Homo sapiens: one gene and its partners. The protein of the gene in region 3 interacts with the protein of the main gene of each other region in a pairwise test. Each region holds a gene or a part of one and is shown on either strand. Other genes may lie near its edges.

What was found.
Region 1: the proteins of COPS3 (region 3) and ELAVL4 interact in binary tests that used the Homo sapiens proteins (3 or more experiments, as listed by UniProt).
Region 2: the proteins of COPS3 (region 3) and TOR1A interact in binary tests that used the Homo sapiens proteins (3 or more experiments, as listed by UniProt).
Region 4: the proteins of COPS3 (region 3) and PRPH interact in binary tests that used the Homo sapiens proteins (3 or more experiments, as listed by UniProt).
Region 5: the proteins of COPS3 (region 3) and FRS3 interact in binary tests that used the Homo sapiens proteins (3 or more experiments, as listed by UniProt).
Region 6: the proteins of COPS3 (region 3) and A2M interact in binary tests that used the Homo sapiens proteins (3 or more experiments, as listed by UniProt).
Region 7: the proteins of COPS3 (region 3) and LMNA interact in binary tests that used the Homo sapiens proteins (3 or more experiments, as listed by UniProt).

Annotation. Positions count from the first base shown.
Region 1 is NC_000001.11:50,143,002-50,147,108, reverse strand, and holds part of ELAVL4 (ELAV-like protein 4), read right to left. Parts: intron 2,153-4,107; coding exon 1,912-2,152; intron 1-1,911. UniProt on the Homo sapiens protein: RNA-binding protein that is involved in the post-transcriptional regulation of mRNAs. Plays a role in the regulation of mRNA stability, alternative splicing and translation.
Region 2 is NC_000009.12:129,813,916-129,818,022, forward strand, and holds part of TOR1A (torsin-1A precursor), read right to left. Parts: intron 308-4,107; coding exon 57-307; 3' UTR 1-56. UniProt on the Homo sapiens protein: Protein with chaperone functions important for the control of protein folding, processing, stability and localization as well as for the reduction of misfolded protein aggregates.
Region 3 is NC_000017.11:17,267,388-17,271,494, forward strand, and holds part of COPS3 (COP9 signalosome complex subunit 3), read right to left. Parts: intron 3,622-4,107; coding exon 3,509-3,621; intron 3,421-3,508; coding exon 3,371-3,420; intron 659-3,370; exon of another isoform or gene 591-658; coding exon 498-590; intron 1-497. UniProt on the Homo sapiens protein: Component of the COP9 signalosome complex (CSN), a complex involved in various cellular and developmental processes.
Region 4 is NC_000012.12:49,293,427-49,298,105, reverse strand, and holds the start of PRPH (peripherin), read right to left. Parts: upstream 2,960-4,679; 5' UTR 2,906-2,959; coding exon 2,361-2,905; exon of another isoform or gene 1,929-2,360; coding exon 1,868-1,928; exon of another isoform or gene 1,675-1,867; coding exon 1,579-1,674; exon of another isoform or gene 1,522-1,578; intron 1,391-1,521; exon of another isoform or gene 1,218-1,390; coding exon 1,050-1,217; exon of another isoform or gene 959-1,049; coding exon 833-958; exon of another isoform or gene 750-832; coding exon 529-749; exon of another isoform or gene 430-528; coding exon 380-429; intron 149-379; coding exon 69-148; intron 1-68. UniProt on the Homo sapiens protein: Class-III neuronal intermediate filament protein.
Region 5 is NC_000006.12:41,769,294-41,773,400, forward strand, and holds the end of FRS3 (fibroblast growth factor receptor substrate 3), read right to left. Parts: intron 3,667-4,107; coding exon 3,505-3,666; intron 2,672-3,504; coding exon 2,523-2,671; intron 2,241-2,522; coding exon 1,326-2,240; 3' UTR 883-1,325; downstream 1-882. UniProt on the Homo sapiens protein: Adapter protein that links FGF and NGF receptors to downstream signaling pathways. Involved in the activation of MAP kinases. Down-regulates ERK2 signaling by interfering with the phosphorylation and nuclear translocation of ERK2.
Region 6 is NC_000012.12:9,108,975-9,113,081, reverse strand, and holds part of A2M (alpha-2-macroglobulin isoform a precursor), read left to right. Parts: intron 1-392; exon of another isoform or gene 393-545; coding exon 546-705; intron 706-870; coding exon 871-923; intron 924-2,747; coding exon 2,748-2,768; intron 2,769-3,046; coding exon 3,047-3,215; intron 3,216-3,676; coding exon 3,677-3,761; intron 3,762-4,107. UniProt on the Homo sapiens protein: Is able to inhibit all four classes of proteinases by a unique 'trapping' mechanism. This protein has a peptide stretch, called the 'bait region' which contains specific cleavage sites for different proteinases.
Region 7 is NC_000001.11:156,113,444-156,117,510, reverse strand, and holds the start of LMNA (lamin), read right to left. Parts: upstream 2,801-4,067; 5' UTR 2,593-2,800; coding exon 2,237-2,592; intron 1-2,236.

The DNA of each region.
Region 1 (4,107 bases), on a different chromosome or scaffold from region 3:
AGATGCTACTGTATGTCTCTGCTTGTGCTGGAGAGGGTGCTAAACAAACCAAAGTTGACAATTTTGGTTTTGTATACCAAATTAAAGGCTGTCTTCGAAGCTGTCACTCCTATTCAAATCCACTCGGTGAACTACCAAATTAGCATTCTTTCAGTAAAGGAATCTGCTTGTTTAAACATGTGTCTTTAGAAAACAAGGAACAACACCATGAATCAGTACTTCTCAAAAATCTCGCTACAGTTCTGAAGGAATTCTGAAAAGGTGATTAATAATATTCACTAATATAGCTGGCAGAGTCTGTATTTTGAAGGTAAGGCTATACTAAAAATACATTTTCTATATAGGAGTAGGAGGAAGAATCATATGGTTAACTGGTTTTAATTTGGTTTGAATTATCATCCTATTATATAAAGATTATTCAGGAATCTAAATATTGGCTTTCTGAACGTATGGGAAATTCTGTTTAAGGATAGATGTTCCAGTGCTCTGGTACAAGATAATCAAAGCCTGGCCCTATTTGGAGAATTTGATAGATACTTTTTTTTCTGTTCTGGCCACTTTCCTTGAAGCATACTAGCTGTACTTACAATAATAGATTTATTTACTGAGGGACCACTGTGCAGTAGACATTGTGCTAGATGCAATATATCTAGTCTCTCATTTAATCCTCACAATAAGCCCTTTGAGACAAGCATTATCTTCCAGTTTTTCAAATAAGAAAATTATGTCTGGAGTGTTAGGTGACTTGTATTTTGGAAAGTAGCAGTGGTATTTAAGTTTTATGATTTTGCAAACTACTTAATTTATAAGGGGAACAGATTTACATGTGAATTATGAGAACAGAAGAATGTATATATCTACACACACACATATAGAATGTATTCTCTGATTTAAAATAAAGATGATGTATATCCCTATTTTAATGATGCAGCTTCCTTTTTAAAAAAAAAAAAACTCTAGGACAGTTGCTGATTAATTAAACTGTCTAGGGAAAGGGAAACAAAAGTCAATACTCAAAACTGACAAGTATTCAAAGTTGGATATGAATGATTTCAGGAGTGGAGTATCAGAGAGTAGCAGCTTCACTGCCATCATTATGTAGCCTAATATATTCCAAGAAAATATTCTCACTGCCAATAAGATTATAGGGAAACTTTCCCCCAAAGAATTATAGTGTCAGTGTCTGGCAAACATTTGGTTCTCAATGAACAGTTGTCAATTAGGAGAAAATCAGAACCTAAAAATCTCATGTATTGAAGTTGTATAGGGTGTTGATTCACTTTCAAGTAAAAATGCCCTCACATCTCAAAGAGTATCTTCAAAACGAACAGACAGATAAAATAAAACAAAATACCTCAAATGCAGATCTTCATTAAGCATTTCCCTCCTACTGCAGAGTAGTTGTATTCCAGAATAATCTGCTATCCTTAGGGCCTGTTTCTCCCCAGGGACAAGGGCAGTTGTGTCAACTGTCCACACATCCACAGTGGCCCCCTTTAAAACACTTGTTTCAGGCACATGGAAGAACACTGGGCACACATGAAGCAAATATTGAGAGGAGGAGAATACATGAGCAAAAACTAGTGTATAGTATAGGGAGGGCAGAGTTGTGGGACTGGAAACTATAGAACAAAGGGAAGGAATGGCTGATTAAGAATAAAAGGAGACAAAATCAAAGGATCATTTTACATGAAGATGAAGATGTACCAAAATCTTCATCTGCTCCCCAGCAGTACCAATCTACAATAAGGTCTTATGTGGTGTATGTAGTGTGAGTTTATGACTGTGTATCCATGCCATCTTGCATGCAGGGTACATGATATAGACATTCAGGTGCACCATCACACATGTGCATTTCTGCTAAGATCTGCACATCTAATGGAACAACATAGCTTCAAATCCTGTGCATACCTGTAATTTTGTCTCTCACAAGTTTGCAGGATTCTATTTCACCAATGCTCCCGAAGAGACTCCTGAATTCTTCTTGGGTCATATTCTGGGGTAAATAGTTGACGATGAGGTTGGTTTTGCTGTCATCTGTGGTTGCCCCTGTTTGCATGGGAGAAGGACAGTTTCTGTTGTTGCTGGAGGGTCCATTGCTTGTATTGGATGTCGGACCATTTGACACCTGAGGCTCCATGGTGCTAATTATCTAAATAAAAATAAAAACAATTGAAAAAGCCTTTTGAAATCTCAGACACAAAGTCTCTTTTAAAAGTTTATTAATTTTTTTGAAAAGAAAGAGAAGAAGATAAAGCAAGATGGAGCAAGAGACTGGGTTGTGAACACAGCCAATTTAGAAGCATGTTTTTAACCAAAATGTTAAACTCCTCTTTCTATTTTTAGGCCAGCCCATAGATTTTGAACACAGACTAGAATGCAGTAGGAACTCTCCCATTATTTTGTTAATGAAAAGCTAATTCCTGTTTTCATTACACAATCACTCTCAGAAATGTATACTTAAGCCACACCAAATTATAATTAAAATGTAAAGTAATAATCATGATTAAAATTATAGTTCCATTAAAGCTGAAAAAGCTAAATATAGAGGACTACACTCACAAGATCAAATACAGTACCTGTTTATTAACTATCTCATAAAATAAAATGACATTAAATTAAGTGGGGTTGTTCAATATGGGAAGGGTTTAAATTTTCACTGATGCTTAATCACTGATCAAATTTTAGATTTTACAGGTACATTCTAGGGAGCTGCAAAGTCATCTAATGTCTTTTTTTTTTTAATCTAGCCATTCTGTTATTGTTTCTCCCAGACCTCTAATAAAACAAAAAACATGGAGGCAAACTTTTCTCTAGGTCTCCACGTTAGGTCCAGCACCGCCTGAGGCTGTCCACTCACATATTACTCAAAAAGGACTTTCTCTTGATTAAAATATTTAATTAAACAAAGATTTCTGGCTGGTGTGAATGTTCCAGGTAGCACGTATGAGAATAAAGAAATGAATGAATCCCTATCCTCAGGGAGCTTATAGTCTATAGAGGACACAGACAGGTAAACAGCTGGTATAGGGCAGTGATCATGCAATACAGAAGCAATTACTTCTGCTTATAGGATAGGGAGATTTAGGGACAGTTCTGAGAAAATGCTGGAATAGGGTTTTATATGAAAAATGAGTTTAAGCTCATGAAGTCAGGTCATGAAGATGCCCTGTATGGAATGACAAACATGGAGAATTGCAAAATTGCAGAGCCAGAAGGCACATAAGGGAACAAAATCTAGCTCAACACTCACATTCGAGATGAAGCCCAGAGATGTCCAGTTACTTCTCTGTTATCATAGAAAAATGGGGGCAAAGTCCAGGCCTGCACCCGGATTTCCTGGCCCCAAACGCAGCCCATAATTCGCAACTTTCCATTTTGTCTTACACCGTCCTCTATTTGTCCATCATAAAATGGCTTCCATCTCCTCAGAAACTGATCATCAACTCCTTGGAAATGAAATCATACTCTGCCACTTACTAGCTGTGTGACCTTGGCAAGGGACTTAAATCCTAAGAGTCTTCATTTTCCTCATTTGAAAAATGGGAACAATGCCACCGTATGGCAAAGCGGTAAGAACCGATCCAGTGATATGACTTATGTAAAGCACCAGAACAGTGGTGGGCACATAACCACAATCACTGATGTTTATTAGTTACTCTGCCAATCATCCAATGTGACTTCTCTCACTGTCTCCTCACAAGAAGGCAATGAAGCATATTCTAATATTCTCTATGTCTTATAGATGAGGAAACCAAGGCATAGCAGACATCTGATAACTAGTAGCTTCCATTATTATTACCATTTGCCTGCTCAGAGGATTTAGGGGGGAAGCATTTTCATTTACTATAACATACATGTAATAAAGTGTATAAATCTTAAGGGTACAACACAAAGAATGTTTACAAAGTGAACACAATTCACAACTGGGTAATTACCTTTCAGATCACAATACAGAACATGACTGGCACCCCAAATGCCTTTCTCAGGTTCTCCATCCCTGTCATTTACCTCACCCCTCAAAGGTAACCACTATTCTGAATTCTAGTCCACAGATTTGTTTTACCTATTTTTTTACCTTTATATACATGGACTCATACAACACAT
Region 2 (4,107 bases), on a different chromosome or scaffold from region 3:
TGAGTGTTGTTTCTTTTCCAACTCCAGGCAGTGACTCCGGCTGCCAATCATGACTGTCAATCATCGTAGTAATAATCTAACTTGGTGAACACCGTTTTGCAGCCTTTATCTGAGAAAACTCTCTCCTCTTTGGGGAAAAATGTCATCTCCTCAGCCACTCTGCTTACAATGTCTTCATCAATTTCATAGCCTCGGGACTGCATTTCCACTCGGATACACATTTTTAGGTGTTTGTATTCCAGGGGGAGGAAGGGAACAAAATAATCAATGAGGTTCCGGTCAATTAAGCTGCTGTGCCAGAAGCCACCTGGGAAGAAGAAACAAGGTGCTGTTCATCCACATCCACCCACCTGCCCTATAGACGCCTCCTGGGGGTCACTTACCTACCCTCCCATCCGTCCCACAAACGTCTACTGGGGGTCACCTATCCATGCCACACACACCTACTGGGGGTCACCCACCCACCCCCCCCACATCTACTAGGGGTCACCCACCCTCCCATCCATCCCATACACACCTACTGGGTGTCATCCACCCTCCTATCCATCCCATACACATCTACTGGGTGTCATCCACCCTCCTATCCATCCCACACATACCTACTGGGTGTGCCCTCTCCCTTGTGGAGCTCCAGATCAGTGGGGAAGGCAGATGTTAACAGGCACCTGCACATTGTAATGCTTCTGTGACAGCAGAAGCTGTGACAGCCCTCTTTACACGGCGGGCTGGGGGAGGCCTCCCAAGGTATGACTTAAGAGATCGAAGATGGGAAAGAGGTCCTGGGGCCCAGGAACAAGCAGAGAGGCAGAGTGGGGAAGGCAGAGTTCCACAGAAAGCGGGAAGCAAGAAGAATTCCCGGGAAGGACTACCAGCCACGCCTCTGTATTTGGGAACTTTTTGACTCTCCCTGGAGTTTCAGCAGCTGGACTAGCAACAGGGAAGCCTGCTGCCGCTGCCACAGTGCCCAGACCCTGCAGAGCATGTGGGCACCAAAACTAGCCTGGAGAGTGCAGATGTGCAGCCCACGCTGGGCTCCCCGTGAAGGCCTGGCCTTGGCCGTGTTTTCTCCCCTGAATGCGGGCTGGCTCTGCACTGACCCGTCCACTCCTCCTGGGCTCCTGGAACTCCTGACCCAGGACACTTCCTCCCAGCCCCAGATGACACAGCACACACTGCGTCGCCCACGAGCCCATGCGTGTCTTCTACTGAGCTGATTCCCTTCTGGTCTGCCATGTAATTCTGGGGCTCCGTCCCCAACCCAAGCTCCTCCTCATTCACTGGGTTAATGCTTTTCATGCCCAACAGTGCTTTGCACACAACTGGTACTCAATAAATGTGTGGCTGACTGACAGAGTGGAGCCTATGGCCAGGGAAAGAACAGAACCAACCACTGAATGGGAACGAGGGGCTGTCTTGCTATCATGAACTCACGTGGGAGGCTGGTTCTCAGAGGCCTGCTCTGTGCCAGGCACGCCCTGGGCCTGGGGACACAGCTGAGGGCAGACGGACCTCACGGCTTTACCACTCTAGGGCAGGAAACAATCTCAGATGGTGCTTGGAGTGGCGAATGCCACACAGCAGAACGGACATGGAGAGCGGGAGGTGGAGCAGGCTGGGCAGGACCTCAGGGCAGAGCCCGAGCAACAAGGACCCAGCCACGCAGACCCAGGAGTGACGGCAGAACAGGTGACCTCAGGCAGCCCTGAGACTTCACAGTCATCTCCTGAGGACTCCCAAGTTTGCCCTCCTGGCCTGATGGCCTCCCTGGAGCTTCGTGGCTCTGCTCTGATGCCCTGATGCCATTGCCCACTGAGCTCGCCCGTCCTTCCTGCTGTCCCTTCCCTTCAATGGCAGTGCCACCCTTCCCATCGCTCAAGCCAGGTCCTTGATTCTTCTCTCATTCCCATATACAATTCTGCAGGAAGTCTTACAGGTTCTACCTTCAAAACACACCCAGAAGCCAACCGTGTCCCTCCACCCCCACCGCTTCCACGCTGGGCTCCCTGCCCCTGTGGCTGTGGGTCTGTCCTCCATCCAGTTGCCAGCAAGGTCCTGTGAAGGCCCCGTCAGATCACAGCACCACCTGCCCAGGACCCTCCAGGCCTCTCTCTTCCACTTGGAATAAGACTCAAGGTTCACCATGGCCCGCCAGGCTTCCCACGGTCTGCACCTCCACCCCAAATCTCGCCTCTTCTATCACCTCCCGTTTCCCTCCTCTGTTTATCCTCAACCAGTCACAGGGACCCCAAGCACAGGCCCCCCTCGGGCCCCTGGACGTGCTGTCCGCACTGGGGAATGCTTTTCCCTCAGACATCCACATGGCTCACTCCCCCGGGTCAGCCCAAATGCCACCCTCACAGGGAGCCTTCCCTGTCCACTCTATTAAAGCAGAGCCCATCCTTACCCTGAACCCCAAAGCCTTTCTTGATTTTTTTCCCCTACTGGCCCCGGGGGGAAAGATATCTATATGTCCACATGTGTACATGTGCGATGTGTGCATATGTACTGCATGTATACACACAAACACATCACACACATCAACATATCTATCCCCCATCATCTGATACATTTTCTTTCTTTATTATCACTAGGATGTAGGATTGATAAGGGCAAGAATTTCTGTGTTTGTTCACTGCTGTGTCCCCCGTCCTAGGTATGATGCCTGGCACTTACCAGATGCTCCATATACATGTGCTGAATCAATGTTCAGCCATCTGCCTGAGGTCACAGTCAGTCTGTGGGCCAGGGCTGCCCGACTCCCAGGTTGGCACTCCTAAGCACCGTGTAACCTCCACAGCGTGGATTCTAGGCCACGGGGCTCATCTGCCTCAGCATTAGGCTAAAGTTTCCACTGCATGTGCTCATGTTTTTTGGCAAGGCAAGAAACTATCCAACATGTTACAAAATACTTGTCTTTCCTCAGTAGTATTCCACTTGCACACACTGACATACTGTACCCCATGCTGTTCACTAACTGTAGGATTAATTTCTTGGCAAGTCTGTTTCAAATGAGCCCTTCTGTTTTGTCATCTCCAGAACCTGAAGCGCAAAGACTTGAACAGCCAGCCCTGCACAACTCACAGGTCTTAGCCAGTGAGTCAGCCTCCATCAGGCTGGCTTTCCACCTCCCCAGGTTCAAGGTCAAAGGTCTCATGACATTTGGAGAAGTAGTGAGCTAAAACTTAAAAGCTCAGGTTTTAGAATCAGAGATACCGAACAGGCTGCATGGCCCTGGGCAAGCTGCCACATCTCTGAGTCTCAGTCTCTACCCTGCGAGGTATGGTGAAGACTGAGTGAAATCCGCAGGCAGGCTGTTTCACACGGTGCCCAGTACAAAATAAGGGCCGAACCGCTATTTGGCTGTTGCTCTTGGGCAATGCAGAGAAAGGGAGGAACTAACAGGTCATCTCTCCCCCTGAGCTGCCCACGGCATCCTTCCTTGCTCAACCACTGGCTCTTTCTTCTACAAAGAAAATCATGTAGCTGAAGAAAATGGGGGAACTGGCCAGGCGTGGTGGCTCACGCCTGTAATCCCAGCACTTTGGGAGGCCGAGGCAGGCGGATCACGAGGTCAGGAGATAAGACCATCCTGGCTAACATGGTGAAACCCCGTTTCTACTAAAAATACAAAAAATTTGCCGAGTGTGGTGGCAGGTGCCTGTAGTCCCAGCTACTCGGCAGGCTGAGGCAGGAGAATGGTGTGAACCTGGGAGGCAGAGCTTGCAGTGAGCCGAGATCGCGCCACTGCACTCCAGCCTGGGCAACAGAGCGAGACTCCATCTCAAAAAAAAAAAAAAAACAGCAGGCCAGGTATGTAGCTCATGCCTATAATTCCAGCACTTTGGGAGGCTGAGGCGGGAGGATGACTTAAGTCCAGGAAGTCAAGACCAGCCTGGGAAACATAGGAAGACCCAGTCTCTACCAAAAAAAAAAAAAAAAAAAAAAAAAAAAATTAGCCAGGCATGGTGGCGCAAGCCTGTGGTTCCACCTACATGGGAAGCTGAGGCTGGAGGATCACTTGAGCCTAGGAAGTCAAGACTCCAGTGAGCTGAGATCACACCACTGGACTCCAGCCTGGGTGACAGAGTGAGACTCTGTCTCAAAAAA
Region 3 (4,107 bases):
CCTAGCACTTTGGGAGGCTGAGGCGGGTGGATCATGAGGTCAGGAGTTCAACGCCAGCCTGGCCAACATGGTGAAACCCTGTTCTACTAAAAATACAAAAATTAGCTAGGCTTGGTGGTGGGTGCTTGTAGTCTCAGCTACGCGAGAGGCTGAGGCAGGAGAATTGCTTGAACCCGGGAGGCAGAGGTTGCAGTGAGCTGAGATTGTGCCACTGCACTCCAGCATGGGCGACAAAGTGAGACTGTCTCAAAAAAAAAAAAAAAAAAAGTTACAACTATTAATTACCCTATCTGTTCGACAAGCTTACTAGTTGAGCCCCATCCTACAGTTTGCATCCAGCACCCGCCTGAATGTAATAGATGTACCTACATATTCCAACTTCTATAACACATCACAATATCGCCAACTTGCCTGTGTTTATCAAACCCAATGTTGAGCAAGCCCATAAACAACCTACACCTCTGACTTGGTGTGAATCACACACTTTGGTTGCTTACCTGGCAGAGATCAGCATGTATTGAGGTCAGCTGGTTTGTATTCATCTGCATCTTGTCTATGGCTTGCTTAAGGATGCCAATTCCTCGCAGGGGCTGTCAGAAATGACATCTCTTTCAGATAAGTTCTCAAAGATGGCAGCACATTGGATCTTATGTTGTCACTTATAAATAAAAAATAACACTAATTGATAGGTTCCTTTAAATAGCAATATGAGGTTTCCATACTCTTTCAGGAAATTTCTGTCCCATTTAAGTCAGAAAACTTTTCTTAAGCTGTTTCTTGGAATTTTTAGATAACTCAGCACCATTTTTTAAATCATAAAAAGCTTTTATTTTTACAATGAAGATCAATAATCAAAAACAGTATTACTTTCTCAACAGTTTATTATATTAACATCTAAACAAATGAAAACTTTCCAAATCACTTATTATACAAGAGACAACAGCCTATGCTTAGGAAAATTACTTGTGGCTAAGGGTGTTGGCATTTTCCCATAGGGCAGTCTACCCCTTACCTGGTAGTAAATTACTACCAAAACTAACACCATAGATTTCAAAAGGACTGTTTCCTGCCCTGATTATAAATAAGAAGACCAAGTGTCAAGTAAGGCATAATCAGTTTTTGGCAGACTAAAATATAGTCTCTTCCAAAATTGCTGGGCACGGTGGCTCACACCTGTAATCCCAGCATTTTGGGAGGCCAAGATGGGTGGATCATGAGGTCAGGAGATCAAGATTATCCTGGCCAACATGGCAAAACCCCATGTCTACTAAAAATACAAAAATTAGCCGGGCATGGTGGGATGTGCCTGTGGTCCCAGCTACTCAGGAGGCTGAGGCAGGAGAATCGCTTGAACCCGGGAGGCGGAGGTTGCAGTGAGCTGAGATCGCGCCACTGCACTCCAGCCTGGGCAACAGAGCAAGACCCCATCTCAAAAAAACAACAACAACAACAACAACAACAAAAATATATATATATATATGTGAAGAGACTAAAAATAGCTCAATAACTTACAGCTTTTTCAAAAACTCATGATTTTTCTTAACCATCTCTTTCAAACATGGTTACTTAGTACTACAAAATAACAACTGGTTCTATTTTCAGCCTCTTTCAAACCACTAATCTTAAATTTACTTTCAAATTAAAAAGAAACACCTGGCTGGGTGAAGTGGCTCACACCTGTAATCTCAGCCCTTTGGGAGGCTGAAGCAGGCGGATCACCAGAGGTCAGGAGTTCTAGAGGCTAGCCTGGCCAACATGGCAAAACCTCACCTCTATTAAAAATACAAAAATCACTGGGAGGCCGAGGCAGGCGGATCGCCTGTGGTCAGGAGTTTGACACCAGCCTGGCAAACATGGTGAAACCCTGTCTCTACTAAAAATACAAAAATTAGCCGGGCATGGTGTCAGGCACCTGTAATCCCAGCTACTTGGGAGGCTGAGGCAGAAGAACTGCTTGAACCCAGGAGGCGGAAGTTGCAGTGAGCCGAGATTGCGCCATTGCACTCCAGCCTGGGTGACAGAGCGAGACTCTGTCTCAAAAAACAAAACAAAACAAAAATCAGCTGGGAAAGGTGACATGCGCCTGTAGTCCCAGCTACTCAGGAGGCTGAGGCACGAGAATCGCCTGAAGCTGGAAGGTGGAGGTTGCAGTGAGCTGAGATCACACCACTGCACTCCAGCCTAGGCAACAGAATGAGACTCCATTTCAAAAAAATAAATAACTAAATAAATTTTTTAAAAATCCACATTATAAATTATGTATTATAAAAGATAAAGAATGAAATAACTGTTCAGATTAAGGGACACTAAAGAAACAAAGCAGTCTAATGCAATCCATGGTCCACGGTTTTCTTTTGCTATATAATATATAGTACACTGTCCAAACAGCTAATGTCCTTTTATAGCAAAAGACAGTCCTTTTCACTGGGGGAAAATCTAAATGGGGTCTGTCAATTTGTTGATGCATTATATTAACGTTCATTTCTGGGCCGGGCGTGGTGGCTCACGCCTGTAATCCTGGCACTTTGGGAGGCCAAGGCGGGAGGATTGCCTGAGCTCAGGAGTTCGAGACCAGCCTGGCAACATGGTGAAACCCCGTCTCTACTAAAATACAAAAAATTAGCTGGGCGTGGCAGCATGCACCTGTAGTCCCCAGCTACTCAGGAGGCTGAGGCAGAAGAATTGCTTGAACCTGGGAGGTGGAGGTTGCAGTGACCAGAGATGGCGCCACTGCACTCCAGCCTAGGCATCAGAGCGAGACTCTGTCTCCAAAAAAAAAAACAGTAAGAGTTCATTTCTGGATGCTGACCATTACACTATACTATGTAACAGAATGTCCTAATTTTTAGGCTTTACCCACTGAAGTATTTAGGGATAAAGAACAGCAATAGCATATGTGCAACTTACTCTACAATGGCTCAGAATAAAAGAGGAAGAGAAAAAAAAAAGAATAAGTGCGGTAAAATGTTAACATTTGGAAAATCTAGGTAAAATGTATGAGAATTTTTTATATTATTTTTGAAGCTTTTTGTAAGGCTAAAATAATGTCCTAATTAAAAGTTAAAAGAAAAAATGTAACAGACAAAACCCAGCATATTACAACATAAAGGGTACTGGCTTGGTAATTCCAACTACTTGGTAGTTCCAGCAGCAGCCTCCCTGAGGTGCCAAACCACCCCGTGCCTCCACCTCATTCAGGGGATGCGGGGACTGCCTGAGCTTACAGCAATGGCTGTGAGTGCTCTCAAGTGACCACAGATATCTAGGTGGTGGATGCTCAGTACTAACTGGAATCTTGATAAAGTAATTCATTGTGTAAGCTAGTTACATATTATAACAAAACTAGGAATACTTGAATAGTATTTCTTACCTGTTTTCTTTCCACAAGTGCATTTGTTAGCTGATGGCAAAGCCCAGCAACTAGATACAATAACAAAATATTCAAAATATAAATATAACCACAAGGGCAAAATATTTTCAATGGAGAATAAAATGTTATTTAGCTTACAAGTGTCTGTTGCATATCGAATGTGCTCCCCATTACAAGTGCTGATGAAGAGCTGAACCTGTGAGAATAGCGTTTCGAAGTCAGGAACACTGGGCATAGAAAACTTCACAAACCTAGAATAAGGAGAAAAGAATCAAATTACCCTGATAGTTCATGGGATAAAATACAGAAACAATGTATGCAAGAAATCCATCCTGCCTCCAATACTCTGTAAAATTAAATGAGCAACAGTATTTTTTAGAATTAAGAACTAGGCCAGGACAGTGGCTCATGCCCGTAATCCAAGCACTTTGGGAGGCTGAGGCAGGAGGACTGCTTAAGGCCAGGAGTTTGAGACCAGTCTGAGCAACATGGTGAGACCCTGTCTCTACTACAAAAAATAAATTAGCCAGGCGTGGGGGTACATGCCTGTAGTTGCAGATACTTGGGAGGCTGAGGCTGGAGGATCACTTGTGCCTAGAAGGTTGAGGCTGCAGTGAGCTATGATCATGCCACTGCACTCCAGCCTGGGTGACAGAGCAAGATCCAGTCTCAAAAAACAAATAAATAAGAACTAGAATCCATGAGATTTTCCTGACCTGGTTATTTTGCACAATCAC
Region 4 (4,679 bases), on a different chromosome or scaffold from region 3:
CAGCCAGGCTGGGGCTCAGAAATAATATGGGAAATGGTGGGGTCCTGGCATTAGGGGACCTGCCTCACCTCCCCATTCCGGGTCTCAATGGTCTTGATCAGAACCGTCTTCCGGCTGTGGCTGTCCTGGGGAGGCTCCACCTCAGGCACTGAAGAAAGCAGGATAAAGGGTTCAAGGGGGAAGGCGTGGGAATCTCTCCTCTTAGGCTCCCACTGCTATCCCTGAGGGCAGGGGAGGGGCGGGTTTGAGGAGTAGGGGTGGGTACAGGCCAGGACCCAGAAGTTCCGTGGGGAGAAGAGATCCCTGAGGTGAGCCAGAGCAAGAGCCCGAGGAGGGCAGAAGTGGACAAGGAGAGGTACAGGCTGTAAGCCAGACTCACCAGTCGTCTTTATATTTAAGGAGGCAAAAGAATGGACGGGCACGGAGATCCTAGAGGCGAAGCAAGTTGTCAGCGCCCCTGCCCAGGCCCCGCCCTGCCCGGCCCAGTCCCGACCCCGCCCTGCCCCGCCCCAGCAGCTCCACCCTCACCGGCTCTCCTCGCCCTCCAGCAGCTTGCGGTAGGTGGCGATCTCGATGTCCAGGGCCATCTTGACGTTGAGGAGCTCCTGGTACTCCCTCAGGTGCCGCGCCATCTCCTCTTTTAGCTGTCGCAGCTCCTCCTCGAGCCGCGCAGCGCCCGCCTGGTAGCCCCCCGCCTCCAGGGCGAACTGCTCCTCCAGCTCTCTCAACTGCCTGAGCAGCGCCTCGTTCTGGGGTAGGAGAGTGGAAGGGGCCAGTTGCAGAACATTTCATCGTCCGCTCCCCGGGCCCGAGCGCGCAGCTTCGTACTCACCGTGCCGCGCAGCCCGTCCACCTCGCACGTTAGACTCTGGATCTGGCGTCGGGACTCGTTCATCTCCTGCTTGGCCTGGCGCAGGGCCTCGTGGTTCCGGTTGGCAGCGTCGGACAGGTCCGCGTACTGAGAAGTGGGGGTAACCCAGGCTTTAGTCGGCTGGGACGCGCGACACCACCCCAGCGTCCCGCCTCGCAGGCCCTCCCGGCTCTTGCACCTTGGACTTGTACCACTCCTCCGCCTCCTGCAGGTTCTTCGCGGCGATGCTCTCGTACTGCGCGCGGATGTCCCTCAGCGCTGCCGTCAGCTCGGGCTTCACCGTGGCTTCCACCTCCACCTGCTGCACCTGCTGGCTCTCCACACTCACCTGCAGGTCTCGCAGCTCCTACGGCCGGGAGCAGGCAGAGGATGGACAGCGGCGCAAATTCCACGCGGGCCACGCAGTTCGTGCACAGAAAAGAGAAGAAACGCTTGAACGAACAGAAGTGGGCGCCAGGGAGGGCAGGGCGTACAGCCCTGCGCCCCCGCGGGCGCGAGACCAGAGGCCAGGTTTCGGAGGTACAGCCCCGCTGCCCGCCGCCAGGTGGCGCAAGGGTGGGAGTCTAACCACCTGTAGACTAGGGTGGAGGGGCTGCGTCTACCCAGCATCGTCCTGATCCCCAGGGCGATGCCTCCGCTCCACCCGCCAGCTCCAGCGAGACCACCCCACAACCTCAGAAACCGCCCCTGATACCGGGCCCACTTACCTCCTCGTGCAGCTTCTTGAGGAACTCAATCTCATCCATCAGAGACTCAATCTTGCGCTCTAGTTCCAGGCGGGACAGAGTGGCATCGTCCACGTCCTTCGAGGGGTGGCAGTGGAGGTTCAAGATAAGTTAGGGGCTGCGCAGACCAAGGAAGGACCAGGCCTTCCCTGTCTGCCTCAGGAGGCATCTGGGTTACCCCCTTCTCCCCGCGCCCACCGATGCCACCTCTGGATACTGAGATCGGGGGTAGCGGTGGGGAGGCTGAACTCGGAGAGGGGCTCGGACTCACCTTGCGGAAGAGCACGAGGTTGTGCTCCGCGTCCTCCCGCTTGCGCGTCTCCTCCTCCAACCTGACGGGAAGAGCGTGCAGAGGCTGAACTGCGGGGTCGCCGCCCAGCTCGCACCCCAGACCGCACGCCCCCCAGGATCCGGTTAGAGGCTGTTCTGCTGCCCAGGACTCTAAATGGAGGGCTGAGGCTGTCTAATGGAATTGCCCCGCATTGTCTCTAACGGACTGGGAGCTGAAAAGGGGGTTTCCTCATTACTCAGGGGAGGCACAGATACCCACTTCTCCCACCTCCCCAAACACTCAGAGCAAAGGGGTAGCGGGGGGCACTTGGAGCCCGTGGGCAGGGATGCTGCCCGCACACACCTGGGTTGGTAAGGGGAGCCACACCCTTGGGCTGCTGATGGAGAGGGGAAGCGAGGGGAGGCAAGAGCAGCCGCCTCGACGGCCGCTTCGACCTCGCCTCGACGGCAGCGGCCCAGCCCTGCCCCCTGACCTCTGCTTGAGCGCCGCCAGGTCCTCCGCCAGCCCGTCGCGCTCCACCTGCACCCGGTCACGCTCGCGGCCCAACAGCTCCAGCTCTCGCCGCAGCTCGCGCAGCTCCTGCTGGCACAGCTGGTCGGCGCGCGCCGGCTCCTGGCCCCGGGCTTGGCTCAGCTCCCCGCGCAGGGCCGCGTTCTGCTGCTCCAGAAAGCGTACCTTCTCGATGAAGTTGGCGAAGCGGTCGTTGAGCTCCTGCAGCTCCTGCTTCTCGTTGCTGCGCGTGGCCAGGAACTCCTGGTTGAGGGCCTCGGCCATGGAGAAGTCGAGGCGCTCCGAGGGCAGGCGCAGGAGGGCGCCCGCTCCCGCTCGGGGGCTACGGAAGCTGCCCAGGCGCACCGAGGAGCTCGGGGACGCGGAGCCCAGCAGGCGGCTGCTGGAGAAGCGGGAGCTGGACGAGTAGGAGAAGGCCCCGGGGGATAGTGAGGGCGGTGGACCGAAGGTACGGCGGTATGAGGTGGAGCTGAAGCCGGCCCGGAGGCCCGACGGGTGGTGGCTCATTGCGGCCAAGGATGGGCAGTCACCGTTCGCAGAGCTAGGCCGGGGGCTGGGAAGGAGCCGCAGACCGCTGCGAGGCGGCTTTATAGCCCTGCGGTCTCAGGGGGGGCACGGGCAGCTCCTCCCACTGGCCTGATGGCCCGCTGGAGGGGGGTTGTATGGGGAGGGGGATGCCCCACCCCTGCGGAACAGCAGGAGCGCCTTCCCCTCCCTTCCCTGGTTGCAGGCCTCTACCCACTTGATTGCCCCCTGTTGCCGCTGGGGTGGGGGTCACTTCCTCCCAACAAGCACCCAAAGCTAGAACCTAGGGTAGGAAGGCCTGACTTGAACTAGAGTCCCTGAAAATTGCGAGGTAGAAGGACCTGAAGTTAAAGGGCAGGCTTCTGGCACAGGAGTAGGGAGGAGGCCAGCTGGAGGGAGAGTTGACCTGGCTTAGGCCCCATAGCTAGTGCCTTGACTTGCCCCCTGAAGGCCAGGCTCTATTTTCACCTGCTGTCAGCTACCCCTCCTTCACCACACCCAGAGAGGAATAGGAGACAGGGGCGCAGAGGCAGATCGGGCTGGGGAAGAGCTACTCTCCCTAATCCCCAGGGCCCTGTGAAGGGCTGGTGCCTGGCGCCAGCTCTGCTGCTAATGGGCTGACCAGCCCCCCTCCCCCTCCCCTGAAGACGGCCCAGCAGAGGTTGTCTGCTGATGTTTCAGCCTTAAAGACACAGCCCCCAAACCTAGACCTACCCCGCAACAAGCCCCAATGAGGTGGGTACATCATAGGGGGCTGAGGGTGGCTGGACCCAGCTCTGGATCCCACTCGGGAGGGTCTGCCCCATGCCACGGGCTGGGCTAAGTGGGCCTTTTGTATTCTGTCTTGGTTTACTGGATTCTCCCTCCCCCCAACCCCACACCAATTGCTGCTCAGTCATGGGCTTTACAGGAACCAGAGTGATTCCTGAGGTAGGAAGGGGAGGGGGCTGAGGGGCAACAGCGGCTGCCAAGGCTGAGAGATGGATGGACTGGCAGGAGCTGGTTTCCAGTATTGATGAGTTGCAGGTACCAGGGATGGGTGGGGCTGGATGGGGAAGAGATGGGGAAAGAGAAAGTGCCCATCCCCAGCAGTCTGAAAGAGAGAAGGCCCCAGAACAGGTCCACAAACCTGCGCACGCAAACAGATGCATACACACAGCTTTGTATATCTATGCGCACACACACTACATACACACACATACACACACAATCACACATCCCACCACACCCTCCCCTACTCCAGAGTTAGCGAGAAGGCTGATATCTGGCCTTTGTATGTCAAACAGCTTCCAGAATGCAAGCACAACCTGCCCAGGAGTGGACAGAGGCAGCTCGGATGGTCTGCAGGAGCCGGGTTGCTGAGGTCTGCTGGGTTTGCCAGGAACCATAGGGCTGGGGCTGCTGCTGCTGCTGGGGACTCCAGCGCTGTCCTGTGAGACAGGTCTGCCTCAGATGGGACCTGAGGACAAGAGAGTGCATCTGGGGAAGCAGGTTTCAGGTTCCTGCCTGGATATCTGGCTGGGGGTAAGGAGGGCGGCTCCCTGGCTGGCCAGCTCCTCAGTATTGCAGGGCAGCAGCCCCCTCCCCCCTTTGTGCGTCCTGTGAGATGGGCCAGGGCCAACGCCCTGCTCACGTCCCTACCGCCTTCGTCTCCTTTCCAGGCCCCTCCTTCCTTCCGGGCCATTAGTCTCTCCCTGCACAGCTGCCAGTTCCTTCTCCTTGATGGGTCTGGTTTGGTTGCCAGGGGAGTGGGAAG
Region 5 (4,107 bases), on a different chromosome or scaffold from region 3:
AAGACACTTAGCAAGCCAGATTATCTAGTTACACATTACACTGTATTTTTTCATTTTGCTATAATCCTAGGATTTTAGTAAAGTCCTGTTTAAAGGTTTGGTCTTGACTCAGCCATGCTGGGGGCAGCTAAGGAGGATCCAGGATCCATCTCTGGGCCAAGGTGGTAAAGGACAGCAGTGCCCTTTGGGGCCTGCCTATTGGCAGGGGCGTCAGTGAGGGCTCCCCAAGAAGGCGAAGGTGTCTCTTCTGTAGCTGTGCCCGCTCCGCTGCACTCCTCACCTGTTACCAGCCTCAGAGGGCTGGGCTCTACCTCATTAGGGCAGTCCTCACAGGCTCCCCTTTTGGCTTCTAGGACTCCAGCCATCCCACCCCTTTCCTTCAACAGAGCATCCATCCCTGGCAACTGTAGGTTCATGACCAGGGCTTCTTGGAGGAGAAAAATAAATGACTGGCCGGGCGCGGTGGCTCACGCCTGTAATCCCAGCACTTTGGGAGGCTGAGGTGGGTGGATCACCTGAGGTCAGGAGTTTGAGACCAGGCTGGCCAACATGGAGAAGCCCCATCTCTACTAAAAATACAAAAATTAGCTGGGCACGGTGGCAGGCACCTGTAACTCTAGCTACTTGGGAGGCTGAGGCGGGAGAACTGCTTGAGCCCGGGAGGTGGAGATTGCAGTGAGCTGAAATCACGCCACTGCACTCCAGCCTGGGCCACAAGAGCGAAACTCTGTCTCAAAAAAAAAAAAAATCATGGACTTGTCACAAAAACCATAACTGACCCAAATTCCCCAGAGTGAAGCCCTTACCTCGATTAGGCCTGCCCTGTGTCCAACCCAGGACCACACCAGAAAAGATTCCCTAAGAAGATGATATCCACTGGGCCAGAATTTAAAAATAATTATATTAATAATAAATATGTTAAATTACATTTAAAACAATAAATAGAAAAATAAACTGATAAATAAAATCAACAGGTACAAAATGTTTCAAAATTCCAACCAAAAAAAACACACACGGACAGTCGGCAGACAAGACAAATGGACAGAACGGGAGGGCGCTAAACGCAATCACAGGAACCCTTCACAGTTGACGTCTCGGCTCCCTCCTCGCCTGGTCACCCTTCTCTCCCCAGCCTGGAGACAGACCAGGAGACTCGGTGGCTGATATCTCTGGGGACTCCAGCCAGCACAGGGAAGCATCTGGTCCCACCTCCATGCCTTCTGCAAAGCAACCCTGAACCCTGGGGAGGGTGGGTTCAGAGGACAGGAGTGTGAGGCAGAGGCTGGATCATGGTGGGGCAGAGGGTGGTGAGGACCGGGAAGTCCCTACAGAGGCAGGTCGGTGCTGTTGTGCCGGGTTTTCCTGGCGGTGCCATCGTCTCGGGGCAGAGCTCTCTGCAGGTTGGACATGGCCACGGTCTTTTTGAGGTCAATCACGGCGTAGGAGTCTGAGCTTCGGGCAGGGTGGGTGGTGGGCATGGGGGCTTGGGGGCTCGAGGGGTTCTGGGGCCCCTTAGGGCGGTCTCCACCCCAGCCCTTTAGCTCCACCTGGATGTAGTTAAGCTGCCTTGGGGGCTCGGGCCCCGGCCGGCGGAAATCAAAGTTGAAGACCCTTGGGGAGCCGCGGCGGCGGGTCAGTGGCACAGGAAAGCTGCCGTGGCTGCGGATGGCGGCCCGGGTGCTGGTGGGCTTCTGCAGTGGGGTCTCGTCCTCCTCACCATCAGGGAAGCCATTGGAAGAGGGTGTGAGCCCATCCCTCGAGTCCCCATCATCCCCAGCCTCCCCTCCCAGCTGCTGGGCTTGGCTTTCCCACACAGGGGGCAGTGGGGGCAGGTTCTCATAGTGCAGCAGGGCGGCCCGGCGGTGGGCAAGGCCATTCCAGCCCGGCTCCTCTGGGCTCAGTCTCCAGCCAGCCCCTCGCCACAGCCCCCCGGTGACGTTCTCGTAGGTGCACTTGGGCTGGGCTGGACACTCAGAAGGGGCCTCATTGTTATTATTGTGGTGTGGGGGGTCATGCAGGCTGGGACAGAGGCCCTGGCACTTCACCATGTGCCGCCGAGCAGGGGTCGGGCCCAACACAAACTTCACCTGGCCTGGCTGCAAGAACACCTGTGGGTCCCGTTGGTCAGGTCCCCGGGCCTGCGGGAGGAAGGGTGCCTGACCCTCAGGCAGGGGCTGCAGGCAGTGGCGGCCCCTGCGGTGGTCATCTTCACTGGCCGGTGTGTTGACATAGGTGTGGGACTGGGGAAAGAGTCCAAGTGAGGCAGGAGTGTCCCAGGGCAGGGAGAAAAGAGAACAGAAGGGACAGGATGAGAGAAAAGAAGCACACAGAAAAAGACCTGGAGTTTCTTCTTCCTTGTCCTCCAACCCTTCTGAGGAAGCTGCTCCCTTTTGGGGACAGGAAGGGACCGTTACAATGTTCTTCCCCTTCCCGTGATCCTTACTGGGAGGAGGTGGCCTTATTTCCTATCCCTCGTCCCCACCCAGACCAACAGGGCAGGGGCTGGCCGGCTGCGTGCTCACCTGCTCATCAGGAGCAATGAGGGCATGGGTGGACTCTTCCCCAAGCGAGGGGTGCCGCAGGCTGCTTGTCGAGAGCCGCCGGGGAGCTGAGAATCGTGGGCCCTCTCCAGGGCAGCCATTGGAAAAGCTGGAGACAGTGTAGCCTAGAGCTGAGCACACGGGAGACAAGCCCAGGAGAGGGGAACTTAAGCCACCTGACAACCACTTGCAGCTGTGTGTGTGGCATCCTGGGACTCCTCTAATGGAGGACAGATGTTCTCAGGGCGTCACAGTGGTTAAACCCCACTGAGCCACCAGCCCCCCATTATCCTTCATCTTTCCTCTGCTCTTCAAACCCTGCCCTTTCCCTCAAGCTCAGCTTGAAGCACCTCACCACTGTCTCCATTATAGCCTCACCCGAAACGCATAAAGCACATCTTGCTGTCACTGGACCGTCCCTTTGCTTCATTCTAGGTCTGCCAGTAAGGTCCAGGGAAGCTCCTCAAAAAAAGGGACTGCGCTTCTATTTCTCCTGTCCCCCATGGGCCAGTCCAAGGAGCGCTGAATACCAAACAGGTACCTGATCTGAATTCAATGACTGAATAAGCAGAAATTGTAGGACCCTCTCCAGAATACGGTCATGGCCAGAGATGCCTGCACCAGCAGCAAGGAAGGTATATGGGGATGACCCAATAGACAGAGGAAGAAAGCAAAAAAACTCCAGACTGCCAATTCTACGGAAACCCAAAGTCTTCCTGTCTGCTCCCCAACCATCAGTCAATACAAGGCCCAGAACTCAACAACCTCAGTTTGAGTCACCTAGCCCAGCCCAGGACTTACCGATCCTCAAGAATGGTTCTGATCATGGACAACTGTCCTGGAAGGTTGGCTCACCCAGCCTTCTCCCAACCAGCCAGCTTAACTAGTCCCTCAGATTTGTGCTTCCTGGGCGTGTGTGTGTGTGTGTGTGTGTGTGTGTGTGTGTACACTGGGGTCTCCTCACCATTGGGTGGCTGGGGGGCTCGAGGGAGGTCAAGCTCAGCGGGGTGGCTATTGCGGGTGATGATGACAGGCTCTTCCATCACATTGATGCTGTTGCACTGCATCAGATCCTGAAGGAGGTTGAAGATTTCCTCAGCCCGGGAACACTTAAATGCAAATATTCCTGGAGAAGGAGAGGAAGAAATGACCCTAGGCAATAGGGAAGGACCAGAGGAGCTCAACAGATGCACAATGTGCAGGAAATGTCCCTCAACTCCAGTCCCAGGCCTGTAGGGGCAGGAGAGCCTCTCCTCATCTTGAGCATTCTTTTTCTTTTCTTTTTTGAGATGGAGTTTTGCTCTTGTTGCCCAGGCTGGAGTGCAATGGTGCGATCTCAGCTCACTGCAACCTCTGCCTCCCAGGTTCAAGCAATTCTCCTGCCTCAGCCTCCCAAGTAGCTGGGATTACAGGCGCCCGCCATTACACCTGGCTAATTTTTTGTATTTTTAGTTGAGACGGGGTTTCACCATGTTGGTCAGGCTGGTCTCAAACTCCTGACCTCAGGTAATCGGCCTGCTGCGGCCTCCCAAAGTGCTGGGATTACAGGCGTGAGCCACCACGCCTG
Region 6 (4,107 bases), on a different chromosome or scaffold from region 3:
GATGGAAAAAATATTAATAAAGCAAACTAGACCAAGGCTCAACATGAGCCACCCGTGGTGGACTGACAGGAACACATCACTCCACACTACTTCTAAGAGTAAAAATTGTAGAAATTACCCTGAGCAAAGGTGTAATATCTCTTCAGAGTTGTCCACATGTGAGATGCTTACAGCCTAGTGTCAGTAAAATACGGGGTTTTTTTCCATAGCCTGTAAAACATGCTTCGACCATGCCCTTTTAGCATGTAATATCAGCCTGGTAAAGCTCAGCGTATAATTGAATCAAGACTGTTTCTGTGAGCTGTATGAAGGTGTGAATCTCACTTACAACCTCTCTTACTGATTTATTTTCCTCCACCTTGTGTCCTGTCTCCCCATTTGTAAAATGGCAGAAGTGATTCCTGTCCATGCCAACTTTCCCTGCTGAGAACAAGGGAGTGAAGTTAAGTAAGAAGGGCAAGATCTCCAGGGAAGAGTGCAACAGCAAATAGGGGAGGAGACCTGCGGGTGCTGAATGGGGTTTCAGGATCGGTCCTGTATTTCAGGTCCCAAAGTCTTCATCCAATGAGGAGGTAATGTTCCTCACTGTCCAAGTGAAAGGACCAACCCAAGAATTTAAGAAGCGGACCACAGTGATGGTTAAGAACGAGGACAGTCTGGTCTTTGTCCAGACAGACAAATCAATCTACAAACCAGGGCAGACAGGTATGAAGAAGCCTACAGACAGGACAACTTCAAAAAGGAAAGATCTTCTTCCCCTGGATGTTCCCCAGGCAAAGTTCCTATAATCTTGGTTCCTTAATAGCTTGTCTTACCAGCCTACAGGCCTACTTTGGGTTTGGGGGCTCATGAAAAATATTTCTGTTTCAGTGAAATTTCGTGTTGTCTCCATGGATGAAAACTTTCACCCCCTGAATGAGTTGGTGAGTTTTCTATTATCTACATAAAATGATTGTCTGTATAAACAGGCTGGGAACCTGTTTTTTGTGCTGAGGGAAGACCAGGGAGAGGAAGAATCTGGTATCATTAACAGTAACTTCTGGCATTACAACAGCACAAGATCCTAATCTAAAACATCATTCCAGGTAAAGAAAGTAGGTAATTCTTTCTGTCTTGGTGCTGGTACTCAGTCAGTTGTCACACAATTAAATTTACTTTTCGGATGGTTCTTAATTAGGACAATTAGAAAGATACATTCAATAGCAGACACAGAAAAATCCTCAAAGAACCTAAGCTCAAAAAACATTTTAAAGATTTAGATTTTTTCTATACACATCTACCAAAATCTTCACTATAAAGGAAAGTCAGGGTAATTAATTTGTTCCTCAAGACTAACTCTTGGTATCTGTGATAAGAAACAGTTCTTTCTATTGTAATGCAGACATCAACCCAAAGTCTTCATTTTTCTCTCCCAAATTAACTTCTTCACATTTTCTTATCTCAAAAAGAGGCAACTCTTCTCTTCTAGCTCCAAAGACAAAAGATTATGGCCTAGTTCTTGTTTCTCTTTCTCTCATACCCACATCCACTTCACTGGAAAATCATGTTGGCTTAAAATATATTCAGACTATTTCTTATCATCTGAACTACTGCTGCAAGCTAGTCCTAGTCAATGTCATCTCTAAATAAGATCATTACAATAACCTTCAAAGTGGTCTCCCAGCTTCTACTTTCACTCCTCTGTCTAAAATGAGGCACCACACCCATCACTCTGTCAGCCTAACTTGGCTTTGTTTTTCTATTTGCACTTACCACCATTCTATACGTATTGATTTTTAAAAATCTGCCTATTTCTATTATAACATAAGCTCCATTAAAACATGGTTTATTGTTCTTTTGTGCGTGGTTATATTCTCAATACCTAGAATGATACACAGCGCATGAGAAGGTACTTAATAAAGATTAGTTTTTAAAAATGAATAAACATTCATAGTAGCTTCTTATCAATGTTTATTCATTTTTAAAAGTAATATTTATTAAACTAAATTTATTAATGAAATATGTCCATTCCTCCTCATTCTTAGAACTACGTAAGAATTCTATGACCCATCTTAATGATTACATCTGAACATATTTACTTATAGTTACATAAGTGTTTATTTCTCAACCTGTAAAATTGCATAGCAAAGGATTGATCTTCACTAGGATGCTATAAGCACTTAAGACATGTTAATCCATTTTTAGTAAATGGCACTTTACATGTATATTTGTTGCTGAAGGCCTAGTAAGTTCTTAACATTATTTATTAATTGCTTAAAATAGATTAATGAAAAGTTCTATAAAATTTAATCTGGAATATTTCTGTATTTCACTATAGAGGGAATTATTCTATATGAAACTAATTTAGATTTTTTAAACTTTTTATTGTTTTTAATTTTTGTGGAAACATAGCAGGTATATATATTTATGGGTTACATGAGATATTTTGATACAGGCATGCAGTGCATGATAATGATTATGGATGATAATCATTATCATTATCCATATCATTATCCAATCATGGATAATGATTATTATCATGCATTGCATGCCTGTATCAATAAATGGAGTACCCATCCCCTCAAACATTTATTCTTTGTGTTACGAACAAATCCAATTATACTTTTAGTTATTTTTAAATGTACAATTAAATTATTTTTTACTATACTCACCCTGTTATGCTAGCAAATACTAGCTGCTTTGCTTATAAATGAGATTTAAGAATATTTGAAAATAATTATAAACTTCTTTTTTCTTTTGTCTTTCAGATTCCACTAGTATACATTCAGGTAAGCAACATGAAACATTCCATATTAAAAGGAAAGCAATACATATAGGGAAAATGTTCTTATTTCAGAGGTTTTTACAATATCTCAGAAACTTGTCATTAAAGGAGAAGCCTTCAAACTCCCATAGAGCTAGATGGCTATAACTCATCTCCTCTACTCACCCTTTACTACTACCCCATTTGACCTTTTTGTAGATAACTTAGGGTTTCCATAGATATCTTTTATTAGCTCCAATGCTCCAGGTGCTTTTGTAAGTTATAATTAATTTACTCATATAGGATCCCAAAGGAAATCGCATCGCACAATGGCAGAGTTTCCAGTTAGAGGGTGGCCTCAAGCAATTTTCTTTTCCCCTCTCATCAGAGCCCTTCCAGGGCTCCTACAAGGTGGTGGTACAGAAGAAATCAGGTGGAAGGACAGAGCACCCTTTCACCGTGGAGGAATTTGGTATGGATCATGAAAAGTCATCAAGCATTATTTTTCTTCATATTTAAACTCTTAGGTCCTGGAATTTAAGTTCATTTGGAGTCTTTCCATTTCCCATGGGTGACATTGGGCTTGGAGTAGAATTAATTACACCTAAGTCCAATGAGGACATCAGTGATCTGTGAATAGGACTTCACATAGCTTCGTTATTTTCTGTAGCAATATTTAATACCAACCCCCAAAATTAAAACATTCTTGTTTTAATGGAGTTTTCCATAATTAATTAAGCACACAGTGATCTCTCATAGTCCCTCAACTGAAATCTTCATTTGAGAGGAGGATAGATAAGAATAGATTGGAGAGCAGAGCTACCTTTTCAGAGCCCTAAAATATTATTAGGGAACTGTTACAGGGAACCTGAAAATAGGAATTCCCCCAAAGTTGAAAACCAATCACCAACCTTCTTTATCACCAATCAACAGTTCTTCCCAAGTTTGAAGTACAAGTAACAGTGCCAAAGATAATCACCATCTTGGAAGAAGAGATGAATGTATCAGTGTGTGGCCTGTGAGTTCATTTTTTAAAAATCTTTTGTGGGGGATTATTTAAAAGAGACTCACCATTTGGGATATTTTAACTACTCTCTCCGGGAGCAGTGGCAACACAAAAATTTTAAGTGCTTTGACAGCATCCTCATCTGTAGAATGTTATTCTCCTGTTGCTTTTCTATTTTTATTTTCTTTCACGTTCTTATCAGTATTATTCTATCATGAGGTAAGAAACTGTTTCTAGAGAGGTTATGCTAATAGGATTGATTCTGAAAGTGACAAAACTGCACACACACACACACACAAAATGGGAAGGGTGGATAGTGTTGAAGGGTATTGGTTCTGCCTTAACCAAAAATAACCAA
Region 7 (4,067 bases), on a different chromosome or scaffold from region 3:
CTAATCCCAACACTTTGGGAGGCTGAGGCAGGCAGATCACTTGAGGTCAGGAGTTCGAGATCACCCTGGCCAACATGGTGAAACCCCGTCTCTACTAAAAATATAAAAAGTAGCCGGGCGTGGTGGCAGGCACCTATAGTCCCAGCTACTTGGGAGGCTGAGGCAGGAGCATGGCTTGAACCTGGGAGGCAGAGGTTGCAGTGACCTGAGGTCACACTACTGTACTCCAGCCTGGGCAACAAAGCAAGACTCCGTCTCAAAAAAACAAAATAAAGGTTGATGGCCGGGCATGGTAGCTCACACCTGTAATCCCAGCACTTTGGGAGGCCGAGGCAGGTGGATCATTTGAAGTCAGGAGTTTGAGACCAGCCTAGCCAACATGGTGAAACCCCATCTCTACTAAAAATTAAAAAAAAAAAAAAAAAAAAAAATAGCCATGTGTGGTGGCACACACTTATAATCCCAGCTACTCAGGAGGCTGAGGCAGGAGAATCTTTTGAGCCTGGGAGGCAGAGGTTGTGGTGAGCCAAGATCGCACCACTTCACTCCAGTCTGGGTGACAGAGTAAGACCCTGTCTCAAAAAAAAACCGTTAAGCCTGTCTTCCTACACACAACTTCCATTGACTCTTCAGAAAGAAGGGTGATGGGCCCAGCGTGGTGGCTCATGCCTGTAATCCTAGCACTTTGGGAGGCTGAGGCGGGTGGATCACCTGAGGTTGGGAGTTCAAGACTAGCCTGACGAACATGGAGAAACCCCATCTCTACTAGAAATACAAAATTAGCCCGGCATGGTGGCACATGCCTGTAATCTCAGCTATTCGGGAGGCTGAGGCAGGAGAATCACTTGAACCTGGGAGGCGGAGGTTGCAGTGAGCCGAGATTGTGCCATTGCACTCCAGCCTGGGCAACAAAACCACACCTAGCAAAGGGTTCTAGGAAGAGCAGAAGTTTGGAGTAGATGATAAAAGAGAGAGAAGAAGTCAAAGCCAACAGCCCTTTACGGATCTCCAAGCACCCTTAGTGCTCTTGGCCTGGGTCTGCATAGAGAAAGGGAAGGCAGGAAGAAGGGAAACAAATTTTGATGGGGCTGGAAGAGAGGGCCTATACTTCCAAGCTCCCAAAGGCTTTTTTAGAAAAGAAGAAGGTGCAGTTGAGTAGGGTGGGGTAGGGTGGGGCAGGGGTGGGTAAAGTGGGAGTGGCCTGAATCTTCCAACGGCTGGATTTCAAAAATGTCACTGTATTCCAGCACTTCAATAAGACAAAGATCAAAACGTCAGCAGCTAAGAGGATGGGCCCGAGCAAAGACTGCCTGGCCCCGCTGGGAAAATGAAAGTGGCTCACCCCAAGGAGGGAAGGACAGTGCCCCCAACCCTCGAAGACACTAGGCAGAGGGCCAAGGGAGGAGTGCGGCCAGACCTGGGCATAACACAACTTCCTGAGCTGGGAGCCTCTGCCCTCTGCCTCCCTCCCTCCCTTGCATTCCTGGGCCAAGCAGGCCAAGGGCTGTGGGAGCTGCGGGGGAGCCGATCTCTCATCTCCCGGAGCTCTTTTGGTGGGCCTGTCAGAGCCCAAGGAAGGTCCCAGACACGCAGAGTGGCAGAGTGAGGGAGAACTTCCCAACCCTTAGAACCCAGGACAAGGTCATGCTGAGGGGGGGCCACCGCCAAGCCCTTGGGAGGGAAAAGGGGGATTGCCCTGCCTTCCTGACCTCGCTCCAACACGCTGGACAGATGCCAACTTGAGAGTTATGTCTTAGTGGGCATCATGTGTTCAGAGCCAGCTTGGGCAAAGCTAGCACAGTGCCAAGCCCGCTAACAAAGTTCTAACAGGACCCTTTCTGCCACTCCGATGTGTCCTGGGTGCCCAGAGTTCTTCGAGCTGGCAGGGCTAGTTCTGTTTTGCTCAAGCCCCTCCCCCCGGCTCCAAATAGTTGGCAAATCCCAATCTGACCGAATTCAGGCCGGCCCCAGCCCCAACTTGTCCCTGATACCCCCACCATTCCTTATATCCTCCCCGACCCTCTCCCAGAGACCACCACTTCCCTCTCTGTCCTGTCTTGACAATTCCCCTTGACACTGCCAGTCACCCGCTGGGGGCAGTTCCGGGGAGGGAGGAGACTATGGCAAAGTTATCGGCCTCCAGGCCCTCTCACTCCCTTCCTGCGGCCGGCCAGGGGCGCCGGCCCGCCGCCCTCTCCACTCCCCGCCAGGCACGCAGCCACCTGGGCGAACTCACCGCGCTTTCAGCTCCTTAAACTCCTCACGCACTTTGCTCAGCTCCAGCTGCAGGCGGGCGCGCTCCTTGGCTACTGAGTCAAGGGTCTTGCGGGCATCCCCGAGCTCGGCCTCGTAGGCGGCCTTGATGCCGGACACCTCGCGGCTGACCACCTCTTCAGACTCGGTGATGCGAAGGCGCAGCCCTGCGTTCTCCGTTTCCAGCGAGCGCACACGGTCGATGTAGACCGCCAAGCGATCATTGAGCTCCTGCAGGTCCTCCTTCTCCTGCAGCCGGGTGATGCGGGTGGGCGACAGCGGAGTGGAGCTGGCCTGCGCCCCGCTGCGGGTGGCGCGCCGCTGGGACGGGGTCTCCATGGCCGGCAGGTTGGCAGCGCTGCCCGCGGGGCAGGGGTCCCGGAAAGGGCGCGGGGCTCGGGTCGAAGGACAGAGACTGCTCGGAGTCGGAGTGCGCCGGCCGGCTGGCTCTCGGCTTGCTCCTGGCAGGCGTGGGGATCTGGGCCGGGCGCTGTCGGACCTCGGGATCTGGGTTGGCTGGTGTAGGTGCGGCGCTCCCGCGAACACTGAGTCACCGACGCCGGGGCAAAGGCTCTAATAGGTCCTCCTCTGAAGGGAGGAGGGGCCACTACTCTTAAAGGGGCAGTCCCAGATCCATTGGGGGTGGGGGCGGGAGTGGTGAGGAGGGGGAAGGACCGTTGGGGTGTGGCGGAGTCGGGCCCCACCCTCTCCAGCGCACCCCTAACTGCGTGAGGCTCAAGCTTCCCCTCTCTTGGCTCCTGCCTGCTCAGCACTGTCGGCTCCAAGCTTGCCCCCATTGCCTCAGACCTTCTGGGCTAGAGGGCAGAGCCAAGGAGGGAGAGTGGGTGGGCAAAAGGGTCGGGGAGAAAGAGAGGGAAGTGGGCGCAAAGCAAGGGAGAGGGTCAGGTAGGCAGGGCTGGGAGCCAGGAAAGTGGGGGGAGGGCTGAGGCTGGTGCCCATCAGTGTGACTCACCCTTCTTCCACCACTGGCTCCCCCTGTCCTCCCAGTAGTAATAGTGAGTCACCCCAACCCCCCTCCACACGTGGGCAGCCCATTCAGAGCTGCATCTCAGTGTGCCAGGAGTGGGGTGGAGAAGGAATGCCTGGGTTCCCTGGGGGGAGCAAAGTTCTGGAACCTGAGTTCCTTTATGCCCCCAGTTTGGGGCCAGGGATCAAGGAGTTTGGGGGGTCCCTTTTTTTCTTTCTTTTGCCCCAATCTATCTCTCTTCAAAGCCAAGCATTCGTTTTTAGACCCAAGCAACAAGCCACAGTCCCCTAAAGAAGTCCCCTAAAGAAAGCCAAGAATAGGAGCCAGGCACTGCCCCTTCCATCTCCTGTCCCCTTCCTTTGGACCCAAGCACTGCCTGGGTTCCTTCCCCCTTCAGTCCCTTTCTACTGCTTACCGCACCCAGTCAACTTATTTTTTTCCCCCAGAACTGTACTTATTTTAATGGATAATTTAAAACAGATACCAGAGCTGTGCATGCATTCATTACGTTGCCAAGACACTAGGTCCCAGATTTCTGTGGTTCCCAGAGGGGCCTGAAAGGGGAAGCAGGGCTGGGGGCTGGACAGCCAATATTGGGTCTCTATCCTGGTTTCAGCCAGAAAGAAGGTAGTGGGGGGCAAGAAGGTAGTGGGGGACAGGAACAGCAAAGACCCCACAGCCTTGCTGGCTGCAAAGGCCAGCACCATACTCATCTCTACTTTCCTCTCTGGCCAGGTCCATTCTGCAGCTGGCTCTGGGGAGGGGCCAGGCTCTCTCACAAAACGAGATCACTCAGGTCCCCAGGGTTCGCTACCTCAGGCTCTGG